Linked DNA regions of Homo sapiens: region 1 is linked to region 2. The links come from fine-mapping of genetic effects on gene expression. Tissue or cell type: whole blood. Region 2 holds a variant in brackets; the other region holds the start of a gene. All regions are shown on one strand. Distances are from middle to middle.

What was found. PIP is the estimated chance that this variant, and not a neighbour inherited with it, causes the effect.
Region 1: KRT10-AS1 starts here. The variant in region 2 is fine-mapped to the expression of KRT10-AS1 in whole blood (INTERVAL, PIP above 0.99). The same link has a PIP of 0.9 or more in NK cells.

Annotation. Positions count from the first base shown.
Region 1 is chr17:40,817,658-40,820,177 of GRCh38, reverse strand. KRT10-AS1 (KRT10 antisense RNA 1) reads right to left here and starts at 1,033. Exons shown (of 3, transcript NR_160888.1): 1 at 970-1,033. It overlaps KRT10 (keratin 10), which reads left to right. Exons shown (of 8, transcript NM_000421.5): 5 at 4-129; 6 at 444-661; 7 at 1,017-1,391; 8 at 1,696-2,061. The coding sequence ends at 1,702. RefSeq lists an enhancer at 1-523.
Region 2 is chr17:40,874,941-40,877,706 of GRCh38, reverse strand. KRT20 (keratin 20) reads left to right here. Exons shown (of 8, transcript NM_019010.3): 7 at 290-327; 8 at 1,249-1,818. The coding sequence ends at 1,346. The region is part of intron 1 of LOC105371777 (a long non-coding RNA gene); the gene reads right to left. Among named protein-coding and RNA genes, the nearest start is that of KRT20, 8.9 kb to the left of the region's middle. The variant G/A (reference allele first, on the strand shown) is at 1,564.

The DNA.
Region 1 (2,520 bases), 57 kb after region 2:
TAGAGCAAGGAACTGACTACAGAAATTGATAATAACATTGAACAGATATCCAGCTATAAATCTGAGATTACTGAATTGAGACGTAATGTACAAGCTCTGGAGATAGAACTACAGTCCCAACTGGCCTTGGTATGTTAACTCTCATGAAATGACTTCAACTTTATCATACAAAGTTTCATGCTCACCTAAGAATATGCAATGCAACAAAAAAATGCAGAGTTGGAGGTAAGAAAGAGAAAACAAAGTGAAGCTCATGTTAATGGAGGAAAAGTACTACTAGTGTTGATCTAAAAGTGCTGAAACTGAAATGGTGCCATTAAACATACAACAAATTCTGTTCATTTTCTTATTCTTCTATATAATGCCTTACTAAATAATCAAATAAGCGTCACCATACTCAACTGAACAAGGAAGTCACTAAGCCACAAAAAAATCCGTTTCAGAAACAATCCCTGGAAGCCTCCTTGGCAGAAACAGAAGGTCGCTACTGTGTGCAGCTCTCACAGATTCAGGCCCAGATATCCGCTCTGGAAGAACAGTTGCAACAGATTCGAGCTGAAACCGAGTGCCAGAATACTGAATACCAACAACTCCTGGATATTAAGATCCGACTGGAGAATGAAATTCAAACCTACCGCAGCCTGCTAGAAGGAGAGGGAAGGTAAATTTTAAAATGAAAAGTTATCCCAGTTTCTTTTATTCAATATTCCAGATAGCAAGGCTTATCTAAACCCCAAGAAGATGCCAGAGAATGAGAGGAAGGGAGGAGAGAGGGTAGAGTACAGAAAAAGGAGTACGCAACCGCAATCTCACTTTCTCATGAATTTGGCCCAAAATGATTCTTAAGAGTTCTGTGAACTTAACATTGTTTTCAAAGGATGGGTTTTAAAATATATACCTGGCAGGGTTTTATTTTTTCAACACGTTTTGCTTATTTTCTAAATTAACGGCAACTGGAAAGCTACCCACCGTTTTCCAACGTTAGAGATAACCGAATGTGACCTCACCCCGTTTAGTTCCGGAGGCGGCGGACGCGGCGGCGGAAGTTTCGGCGGCGGCTACGGCGGCGGAAGCTCCGGCGGCGGAAGCTCCGGCGGCGGCCACGGCGGCGGCCACGGCGGCAGTTCCGGCGGCGGCTACGGAGGCGGAAGCTCCGGCGGCGGAAGCTCCGGCGGCGGCTACGGGGGCGGAAGCTCCAGCGGCGGCCACGGCGGCAGTTCCAGCGGCGGCTACGGTGGTGGCAGTTCCGGCGGCGGCGGCGGCGGCTACGGGGGCGGCAGCTCCGGCGGCGGCAGCAGCTCCGGCGGCGGATACGGCGGCGGCAGCTCCAGCGGAGGCCACAAGTCCTCCTCTTCCGGGTCCGTGGGCGAGTCTTCATCTAAGGGACCAAGGTCAGCAGAAACTAGCTGGGGTAATCAGAATTAGTTTTAACTTCCTGTGATGGTTTTTTTGCGCTTTAAGCTCTAGAGTTGTTTTAAAAAATTAAAAATCTTAGAGACGGTTCCGTTTGCATTTGTTCACAAACTACTCTTAACACCAGCCGTGAAAAATGGCATGATCAAAATGTCATACCTTAAGCATTTTTTTGGGCTTAACAATGTAAAGTTGAAATTTCCTTCTTTTTACAATATTTGCTTGTTAATTACTAAGGATCCCTACAGACTGTTTAAAATTTTTTTTCCATCATTCACACAGATACTAACAAAACCAGAGTAATCAAGACAATTATTGAAGAGGTGGCGCCCGACGGTAGAGTTCTTTCATCTATGGTTGAATCAGAAACCAAGAAACACTACTATTAAACTGCATCAAGAGGAAAGAGTCTCCCTTCACACAGACCATTATTTACAGATGCATGGAAAACAAAGTCTCCAAGAAAACACTTCTGTCTTGATGGTCTATGGAAATAGACCTTGAAAATAAGGTGTCTACAAGGTGTTTTGTGGTTTCTGTATTTCTTCTTTTCACTTTACCAGAAAGTGTTCTTTAATGGAAAGAAAAACAACTTTCTGTTCTCATTTACTAATGAATTTCAATAAACTTTCTTACTGATGCAAACTATCCCAATTTGTCAGAATTTATCTTTACTTAAGTACATAATACTCTTTAAAATTAAAGATTAGTAACCCATAGCAGTTGAAGGTTGATGTATCCAGAAATTCGGAAGACAGAACTATTGTCATGCCTTTTCTAAGTTTTTTAATCATGTATGTTCAGACCACCGTCAGTAAATTCACTGAGTAAAGTCTGTAAATCCCCAATATTACTCTTTAAGATACACAATATGTGGAAGGCTCCCAGCTCTCTGGCTTTAAATTATTTCAATCCTGGAAATTCTGGAATATCTCAAATAAAACCCCCAAAATAATAATAATTGGAAATTTTATATTTTCTAATTACCTGACTTCTCACCTTTGCCTTTTCTTACTTTCTTCCAGTTACTATATTACTTCTTCCCAATTGTTATATAGCTTGACATATCTTCTGACACCACCCAAGTAAAATCATATCACCCCCAAC
Region 2 (2,766 bases):
AACAAGAGAACACAAGATTTAAACTTCCATTGTAATTTTGTTATTTTAATTAGAGGAACTTCTTAGCATATATTAAACTGGTCAGTTTTAAATCTATGTATTTTTCAAGTTAAAAAGTAAAATGCTCAAGTTTGCAATAAAAGCAATGTAAAAGGGAAAGATATATGAAAGCAATAACACATTCACTTGGACTTTGAAATATAAAAGACAGGAGTGCATTCCATTTTCAAAACAGCAATAATGCTTTTTTCTGTTTCTTTTTTCTTCTTTTCATTAAAAAAAAAAACAGAACTACAGAATATCAGTTAAGCACCCTGGAAGAGAGAGGTAAGTTCTAAATTTTTGCACATTTTCTATGACATTCAGCTGCTTTCTATTAACTACATGCCACTGATAAAAAGTAAAGTGAGGCTGTTTTAGTCTGTTTTCTGCTGCTGTGACAGAATACCTGAGACTGGATAATTTACAAACAATAGACGTTTACTTGGCTCACAGTTCTGGAGGCCAGAAAGTCCAATATCAAGGTGCCGGCATCTTGTAAGGGCCTTCTTGCTGTGTCATCCCATGGCAGAAAGTAGAAGTGCAAAAGAGTGTCCATGAGAACCAGAGAGCAAGAGGAGGCTAATCTTTCTTTTAGAACTAGCCCACTCTCACAATAACTAACCCATTATCATGGTAACCACATTAATCCATCCATGAGAGAAGAGCCCTCATCATCTAATCACCTTTTACTAGGCCGCACCTCCCAACACTGTTACATTGGGGATTAAGTTTTCCACACATGAACTCCAGGGAACACATTCAAACCATAGCAAAGGCCAATTCTCAAGGGAGCAGATATGACACCAGGGATTCTAAAAATCTTGTACATGGCATAAAGAAACCCTCCACATGGGAACTTGGGCACACTCCTCAGAATGGGGTGATTTTCTTGGCCTGTGCTATTGCTATCTTGAAACATCCTGACATCCTGAAAAGGAAAAACAAGACAAAATTTGAATTCCACTTAAATTCAAGATAATTTATTTCTTGAATTTTTAAGAGTAGGACATTTGTAAATTTGGGGAGAAGCACATTTTCTGCATCTATTTATAAAATGGACTTAAGATTTTTTGAGAAAGAGGATGGGTTTAACATATTTTTCTAAAAGAAGGAAATAAGTAAAAAGAATAATAATTTAAAGTTGAATATTATAAATCAGCAGAGTCATGTGCCTGAATTAACATTTAATGTTTAATATGAATTCAGATATAAAGAAAACCAGGAAGATTAAGACAGTCGTGCAAGAAGTAGTGGATGGCAAGGTCGTGTCATCTGAAGTCAAAGAGGTGGAAGAAAATATCTAAATAGCTACCAGAAGGAGATGCTGCTGAGGTTTTGAAAGAAATTTGGCTATAATCTTATCTTTGCTCCCTGCAAGAAATCAGCCATAAGAAAGCACTATTAATACTCTGCAGTGATTAGAAGGGGTGGGGTGGCGGGAATCCTATTTATCAGACTCTGTAATTGAATATAAATGTTTTACTCAGAGGAGCTGCAAATTGCCTGCAAAAATGAAATCCA[G/A]TGAGCACTAGAATATTTAAAACATCATTACTGCCATCTTTATCATGAAGCACATCAATTACAAGCTGTAGACCACCTAATATCAATTTGTAGGTAATGTTCCTGAAAATTGCAATACATTTCAATTATACTAAACCTCACAAAGTAGAGGAATCCATGTAAATTGCAAATAAACCACTTTCTAATTTTTTCCTGTTTCTGAATTGTAAAACCCCCTTTGGGAGTCCCTGGTTTCTTATTGAGCCAATTTCTGGGTTAATCTTATTGATTTTTCAGCATCAGTACAACTCTACAACCTTTGAGCTATATCTGCTTTTTCCCATTGCTTCCACTGCCTTTTAAAACTCAACACAGCTTTTTGAATAATTTGAGAGTCAAATTCAATCACAAATGCTGAGCAGAATAAGAGTGAAGTACACTATACTTAAAATGGAAATAGATTAAAAACAACATTACTGAAACCCTTCTCAAGGCAAAATGTGTCTCCTTTTGATAATAAGCTGCATATACTATCAGGTCCTCTCTTTCTTTATATGGTGAACATATATTTTTAATGAAATGTCTCTCATTTTTTTAATAACAGATTTATTGAGATATAATTCACACACCATGAAATTCACCCTTACAAAACGTACAATTCAGTGGTCTTCAGTATGCTTACAATGTTTTGCAACCATCACCACTATCTAGTTTTAGAACACTTCATCACCCCAAAAGGAAATCTTGTACCTATTAGTAGTCACCGCCTTTTCCCTTCCTCCCAGCCCCTAACAACCACTAATCTACTTCCTGTCTCTACGGATTTGCCTACTCTGGACATTTCATATAAATAGGTTAATACGATGTGTCCTTTTATACACAAATGTTCATAGCAGCATTACTCATAAAAGCCCCAAAGCGAAACACCTCAAGTGTCCATCAACCGATGAATGGATAAACAAAATGTAATATATCCACACAATAGAATCTTATTCGTCAATAAAAAGGAATGAAGTACTGATACATGCTATAACAGAGATGAACTTCGAAAACATGCTAAGTGAAAGAAGCCAAATCCAAAAACAATAAAAACACATATTGTATCCTCACCCTTTTTGCATTTTAGTGAGCAATCATTGCATATGAATGTTTATGGGAAAAATCAATGTGTGCTAAATCATTGTATTCCAGTAAATAGATTGGACTTAAAACTTGATACAGAAG